Homo sapiens: one gene and its partner. The protein of the gene in region 1 purifies or fractionates together with the protein of each later gene. This does not show direct contact. Each region holds a gene or a part of one and is shown in the gene's direction. Other genes may lie near its edges. The genes, in order: NDUFAF5 and ACAD9.

Region 1 (3,812 bases):
CTTCTTTAGTTTATACAATTAGAAAGTTGCTGATTTAATAAGAAAGTTATGAGAATGTCTTCTTGAATCATTACATTTATCCTGTGAGGCATGTATACAGTTTTGTTTCTGAGGTGCTGTATTAATATTGCGTCCTGGCCAGGCACAGTTGTTCACTCCCATAATCTCAGCACTTTGGGAGGCCTAGGTCAGAGAATCACTTCAGCCTGGGATTTCAAGACCAGCCTGGGCAACATAGGGAGTCCTCATCTCTAAAAAAAAATTTTTTTAAATAGCTGGGCCTGCCTGTAGTCCCAGCTACTCGGGAGGCTGAGTTGGAAGGATTGAGCCTGGGACGTTGAGGCTGCAGTGAGCCATGATCTCACCACTGCACTCCAGCCTGTGTGACAGAGCAAGATCCTGTCTCCAAAAAAAATAATAATAATATGTGTTCTAATTCATTTTCTAAAAATTCCCATCCAAAAAAGCTTTTGTATAATCAGCTATACAGGTTTATGTTGCATACATTAGATATATTACTTTTACGCTACAATGGATTTTTATTTTTAAAGTGAAATCGAGTCAGATTAGTATCATATAGATGTATTTACATCTTAATGTATTTTCATCTTAATGAATTATTTTCAGAGAATGAGCATTCTAAGTAAAGCTGATTTCCGTTTTAGAACTGAACTACCAGACTAGTACTTTAAGAGAATGGTGCAAGGCCTGGCACGGTGGCTCACGCCTCTAATCCTAACACTTTGGGAGGCCAAGGCAGGCAGATCACAAGGTCAGGAGATCAAGACCATCTTGACTAACACAGTGAAACCCCGTCTCTGCTGAAAATACAAAAAAATTAGCTGGGCGTGGTGGCACATGGCCTGTAGTCCCAGCTACTTGGGAGGCTGAGGCAGTAGAATAGCTTGAACCTGGGAGGCGGAGGTTGCAGTGAGCCGAGATCGCACCACTGCACTCCAGCCTGGGCGCTGGGTGGCAAAGTGAGACTCCGTCTCAAAAATAAAATAAAAAAAATGGTGCAGATATGGTCCCCTTTTAATTTAAATAAGGCCTTCAACAAAGCTGTTGTGGCATTCTTTTGATTGAAGTGGAGATAGTGCTTTTAGTTGGTTGCACTGAAGAATTGTTTTCAAAGGATATTGCTTAATGGCTAGATAACAGCCTGGAAAGAATTTTGTTTTTAATCTTAGGATCTCCTCTTAAAAACAGCTTGTTAATATGGAAAAGTATATGGATGATGAATGTTCATGGTCTCACTACCTAGAGGTCTCATTAAAAAGCATACACAACCTGATACACGTATATGTTTTTTTAAAGAAGAGTAAGGTATATATAGAGAGAGTGATACAGTGGGGTGTAAAGTGAAACGAAGTCTCCTCTTCCTGACTTCTCCCTCTGTTGCCCAGGCTAGAGTGCAGTGGCGAGATCTCCGCTTACTGCAACCTCTGCCTCCCAGGTTCAAGGGATTCTCATGCCTCTGCCTCCCAAATAGCTGGGACCAAGGGCATGTGCCATCACACCCAGCAATTTTTTTTTTTTTTTTTGAGATGGAGTCTTGCTCTTTCACCCAGGTTGGAGTGCCGTGGCGTGATCTCGGCTCACTGCAACCTCTGCCTCCCGGGTTCAAGCGATTATGCTGCCTCAGGCTCCCAAGTAGCTGGGACTACAGGCACCAACCACCATGCCTGGCTAATTTTTTGTATTTTTAGTAGAGATGGGGTTTCACCATGTTAGCCAGAATGGTCTCGATCTCCTGACCTCATGATCTGCCTGCCTCGGCCTCCCAAAGTGCTGGGATTACAGGCATGAGCCATCGTGCCTGTCCCTCCTCCTGACTTCTCAAACCCTGGTCCCTTTCCCCAAAGATTTGTTAGCTGTGTCTTAGACATCGTTTCAGATCCACTTTTTTTTATAGACCCATAGAATACACTTATGTCATTTAAACTTACTTATATAATATTACATGCACTCTTTTGCTTTTTTTTTTCCAGTCAATAACATGTCTTGGAGATTTTTTTCCTATAGACATGTATCTACCTTATTTTTTGAGAACTGTACAGTATTTTATAGAATACATATTCTTTAATTTGTTTAACCAGTCCTCTATTAATGATGTTTAGATTTATTTTAGGCTAGTTTCCAGCCAGGCGCCATGGCCCACACTTGGAATCCCAGCACTTTGGGAGGCTGAGGCTGGTGGATCACAAGGTTAGGAGATCGAGACCAGCCTGGCTAACACGGTGAAAGCCCGTCTCTACTAAAAATACAAAAAAAAAAAATTAGCTGGGCACGGTGGCAGGCGCCTGTAATCCCAGCTACTCGGGAGGCTGAGGCACAAGAATCGCTTGAGTTCAGGAGGCAGAGGCTGCAACGAGCAGAGATCACACCACTGCATTCCAGCCTGGGCAACACAGCAAGAATCCGTCTTAAAAAAAAAAAAAATTATTTTAGGCTAGTTTCCAATAAGAATAAACCCCTACTTTTAGTGCCTAACACAATAAAGTTTTATCACATCACAGCTGCGTGCTGGTGGGACAGCCCATCTCCATCTTGTAGCTGTGCCATCTGGCCCTGTGTTCTATAATCTGGCCCTGTGTTCTATAAGATCACCACAGCAAAAGAGATGGCCTGGAAAAGGCTCTAGCTCTTAACTGTCTTGCCCCTCCTTTCTTTGGCCAAAAGAAATATGTGTTTGAGATTGGGAAGTGTCAAGGAGCACCTGGATATTTGGGGAGCATCAGTGGTCTCTGCCACTGTACCAACAGTTAAGTCCTGTATCAGGCTTCAAAAAGAAGAGGAAGTCATTACCCAATTGTTCATTTGAGAAACAAACTCCACATGTATCAGCAATGTGCTCATTTCCTAAACAAGCCTATTGGCTGCATTACTAGATATAGAATGAAATATTTTGATTCTAGGTGCCCCATTTTAAGAAAGATTGATATTGACACTGTCCAGGGACATGTAGTCAGAACATGTAAGGATCTCCAGATTTTTGTGTCCTGAAGGTTTTCAAAGACTTGGAGGAGAGGGCAATGGTTTGTAGGGTACAGAATACTCTTATTCTGTGTGGTTCCCAAAGAGAGAACTAGAACCAATGATGGAGTTTTAGGATGATTTCTCTCACAATGCAGGATATTTAATCAGCAATTAGAGACTTTCATAAATCAAACATAAGCCAGATGACATCTATGAAGAATATTGTAAATATTTTTTGCTTAGCATGGGAGATTGGTCTGGGTAGTCTCTGCGGCCTCTTTTTTAAATCTGGAATTTTGTATCATGAATGTCAAATGAATATTTCTTTTTCTTTTTAAATAGGACACTGATGAAATTCAAGTTAACTATCCTGGAATGTTTGAATTGATGGAAGATTTACAAGGTAAGGCACTTTAAAGAATTTTTAGACTCCATTGGGAAAGGTAGGCCAAAAAAAAAGAATTTTTAGACTCCATTTGAGAGAAACATTTTGAGAGCCAGCTCTTTGGCAGGCACTGGGCAAAGCACTAGGGATCCATTGTTGAGGAGAAAGCAGACTGTCTTCATGGAGCTTCTGATATAAAATGGAGGAGGCAGGCACCAGGCAGCTGTCACAGAGATAAGTGTTAAATTAGAATTATGGTCAGTGCTATGAAGTAGAGGCATATAGTGCTACGGCTGTTTGTAAAAAGATGGCGGGACTTTTTTTTGAAGGGTGCACTTGAGGATGATGGAACACATTGGTGACTTCCTTCAGCCACACTTGGCAGCTGAGATACAGGAATGAAGGTAGTTGAGTTGGTTTAGAAGTAGGGTTTTGTCAGGGGGAAATG
Region 2 (3,812 bases), on another chromosome or scaffold:
GAGGCAGGCCTGAGACAGGGAGAGGGTTTGGGCCTGAGCAGCAGGTCTGGTGATGAGAGGCATCATCAGCCTCTGGGAGTGTAGTCTTGTCTCCTGGGCCGTCCTGCCCAGTGGGAGGCCTCCTTGGCTGCTTTTGTTCCTGGCCTACCCATTGGGTTCCAGCCATCTCCACTGTTGCAGTGGACATACGGGGCAAGGGCCAGCCTGAGGGCACTGGAGTGGTCTCAGCCCTGCAAAGGGTCTTCTCCAAAGGCCCTTCCCTTAGCCTGGGAGGGTTGGGGTTCTCCAGGGCTGGGGTGGTCAGCAGGGTTCAGGAAGCCCTCAAGGCCTTGGAAGAACACAGGGCTCTCGATGTAGGGTGAGAGCTCCTGTCTGGAGCCTGCTCGGAGCTGGGTGGTCCTGCCAGGAGGCCCCTGCAGTCCCCCCTTTTCCTGTAGGGAGTCCTGCTGTCCGTGATGTCAGCCTGACTGCAGGGGACAGTCCTCAGTCCCTAGTGCTGGCTGTGTAGCCTGGGTCAGGCCCCTGCACCTGACACACAGTACCATTGTGCAGAGTGGGCAGAAGCCCACTGGCCTCTCACTGATCAGAATCATGGGTTGGGGGAGTGGGGAGCATGTGGCCCTCTGGGTGTGTTGACACCTGGCACTGAGGAGGTTCTAGCTGCCACTCAGCAATTTCTGGCTTCCGTGAGGAATCTGGCCTCCACCTGGAGCCAGCAATGTCTGTCTGGCACTGGCTGAGCCCCAGGCATCAGCACCCCTCACCACCCGGGGAAAGCTGGTTTCCATTTTACAGAGGACCTGGAGACTTGGAGAAAGGCTTGACACACGTGAGGCTGGTCACGGAGAGGTGGGGGGGTCCCAGTGGGAGCTCATGGCCATCTGGTCACCTCCCTCCTCATCCCTGTGCACTCCCTGAGCCCTGGCCAGAGCCCTGCTCCCAGCTACTTCAGGAGCAGTGGCTTTTGTGGCAATGGGCAAGCAGGCAGTGGCCGGCTCTACCCAGCACACGTGGCACTACCATGGCTGCCTGGCCGGGGGGCAGCCTTTGACCTCTACACTACTGACCACAGGGAACCAATGAGATTCTCCGGATGTACATCGCCCTGACGGGTCTGCAGCATGCCGGCCGCATCCTGACTACCAGGATCCAGTAGGTGCCATTGTCACCGTGTGCTTCTCAGGTCCCATACCTGCCCAGCAGGGGCCAGTCCAGGGCAGTGGGAGGAAAGAGCTGCCTTGACCTGGAGTGGGGGCATGGGGGTGTGGCGCAGCCTTGTGGAGGGGACCTTCCCCTGTGGTAGTGGGGGGCTTGCTGCCCAGGGAAGCCCTCGCTGCCCTGCCCTTATGGCCACAGCACCCTACAGCTTCAGCATAAATACCGTATCCCCCATCTGGTCCCTCACACTAGAGGCAGCTGGTTTTTCAGAACCTGAAGAATGAGAGGTGTCCCTTTAAAGGTGCCAGGCCTCACAGCCAACATAAGCCAGTGTTTCTCTTCTCTGCCCTTCTTCCCCTCATGCTCCCCTCCACCCCCACCCTAGGGGCACAGTAATCCAAAATCACTGCTGGAGGCCAAGTACAGGTTGCTAGTAGCATTTTGTCTCCTTCACAGGAGACAGCTGCTGGGAAGCTGGCTGTGACTCCACCCCTCATGGGGGAGCATATGTGTGGCTCCCCTGAGGAGACTGGCTGCTCTCTGGCAGGTGGTGGGTTTGGGGGGGTTCAGGCTGTAGCCAGGGGCCCAGCATACCCAGGCCAGAGGGGGGCACGGAGCTTCTGGGTGCCGAATGGGCCATGTTGCTGGACAGTGAGCGCCAGCAGCGAGGCCTCCAGTCACAGGACCATGGACTTTCTGCAGTGAGCTTAAACAGGCCAAAGTGAGCACAGTCATGGATACCGTTGGCCGGAGGCTTCGGGACTCCCTGGGCCGAACTGTGGACCTGGGGCTGACAGGCAACCATGGAGTTGTGCACCCCAGTCTTGCGGTGAGTGGGCCTAACAGGCATACCCCCTATTTCAATGCCCTCCTGCCAGATCTCCTTGTGGCAGAAAAGATCTCACTGTGGGGGGTCTGGGCTTCTCCAGGGGAAGTTGGGGAACACCAGCTAGTCCATGACACCCTGGATTGCTTCCCCCAGATGGGGCATCTCTGCCTGGTACCCGGGCTGTGAGACAGGACAGGGCACTGTAGGGATGAGGTGCTGAACTGAGTCCTGTCTTGGTTAATAGGACAGTGCCAACAAGTTTGAGGAGAACACCTACTGCTTCGGCCGGACCGTGGAGACACTGCTGCTCCGCTTTGGCAAGGTAACCAGGCCCTCCCAGGCCTGGGTCGCAAGCGGTCCTCCAATTTGGCCAGCATTCATGAGACTACTTTTTGTCAAGCATCCTTTGGGACCAGGCCTAGAACAGAAATGTTGATCACCCTGGAGGGATGGGGTGGTGAGGTCAGGCTGACTTTGTCAGCCTGGGGCCCACTTAGCTACTCGGATGGGTACCCTTGCTGGGTGAGTTTTCTGCAGTGTTTTTCTGTGCACCTTTCAGGTAGAGAGGCTCCCTAGAATCGGGAGGGCAGCTCCACCTGGGGCCTGAATCTAGGGACCTGATTGGTGGGGCCCTTGCTGCTGAAGGTGGCAGTAGCACAGTAAGCACTGGCTTCTGGTCTCAGCCAAGCTTCTGGGACCTGGTCTTGCCTTAACCCCTCCCTGAATCTAGAGCTCAAAGAGAAGGGAAAACAGAAGGTGGCTGGGAGCCGTTCTCCCACAACCTGAAGAGAAAGGTGTTATTGACTCCACTTTCTCAAGGAACACAGGAGACTAAGACAGGCAAAGATGCAGCCCAGGGAGGGACCATGTGGGGGACTGGTCTAGGTAGTGAGTCCCCACTTGGAGCCTCTGTGATCCCAGACCATCATGGAGGAGCAGCTGGTACTGAAGCGGGTGGCCAACATCCTCATCAACCTGTATGGCATGACGGCCGTGCTGTCGCGGGCCAGCCGCTCCATCCGCATTGGGCTCCGCAACCACGACCACGAGGTGAGCCCAGCCCAGCCTCACACAGGGCCTGGCTGCTGCCATCTGTCCTGCTGCACTTTAATGAAGTTGATTGTTGAGGAGGGTGTGGTCGGGTGTGGGGGAGGCTGTGCAGGTTCACCATGCGGTGGCCGTGGGAGGGTCTGTGCTGCTCAGGAGATGGGGCTGTTCCCTTTCTTCTTCCTGACTGAGAGAAGAGGGGGTGAGTGACAGGGGTTCCTGATCCCAGTGCCCCTACCCCCAGCAAGGGACAGACCCTGCACATTGCCCGCTGTGCTGGAGGGAGGCGGGTGCAGTCTCTGAGGACCCACTGTATACCAGGATCTCTGCCTGCACTTTCCAGAGCACCTGCAGATACCAGGATTGTGACATCTGCCTTTCAGAGGAAACAGGGTCAGAGATGTTGAGTCACTTGCTGTTGGGGAAAGGCTGTTGGATCAGGGCTGGAATTAGAACCCAAGACGGGGTGACTCCTGTGCCAGGCCTTGTGACCCCTGCCATGCTACCCAGTTTGGCTGATAGGCTGGGTTTTTGAAGCTCAGAGGTCTGATTCCAGGAATTTGGGCATATCTTTTCTGTCCTCGGTTCTGGCAGGTTCTCTTGGCCAACACCTTCTGCGTGGAAGCTTACTTGCAGAATCTCTTCAGCCTCTCTCAGCTGGACAAGTGTGAGTGGCATGTCTTGGGGGAGGGAAGGAAGGGCCCACTTCTAGGCCCCTATTGATGGTGAGCTGTTTCTGGACCCTGTCAAGCTCCCAGAGCCTGCTAGCTACTCACAG

What was found.
Region 2: the proteins of NDUFAF5 (region 1) and ACAD9 purify together in Homo sapiens (co-immunoprecipitation; one large-scale study listed by IntAct). This does not show direct contact.

Annotation. Positions count from the first base shown.
Region 1 is NC_000020.11:13,805,521-13,809,332, forward strand, and holds part of NDUFAF5 (arginine-hydroxylase NDUFAF5, mitochondrial), read left to right. Parts: intron 1-3,321; coding exon 3,322-3,382; intron 3,383-3,812. UniProt on the Homo sapiens protein: Arginine hydroxylase that mediates hydroxylation of 'Arg-111' of NDUFS7 and is involved in the assembly of mitochondrial NADH:ubiquinone oxidoreductase complex (complex I, MT-ND1) at early stages. May also have methyltransferase activity.
Region 2 is NC_000003.12:128,907,113-128,910,924, forward strand, and holds part of ACAD9 (complex I assembly factor ACAD9, mitochondrial), read left to right. Parts: intron 1-1,072; coding exon 1,073-1,152; intron 1,153-1,860; coding exon 1,861-1,987; intron 1,988-2,231; coding exon 2,232-2,309; intron 2,310-2,760; exon of another isoform or gene 2,761-2,908; coding exon 2,909-3,037; exon of another isoform or gene 3,038-3,151; coding exon of another isoform or gene 3,152-3,221; intron 3,222-3,628; coding exon 3,629-3,701; intron 3,702-3,812. UniProt on the Homo sapiens protein: As part of the MCIA complex, primarily participates in the assembly of the mitochondrial complex I and therefore plays a role in oxidative phosphorylation.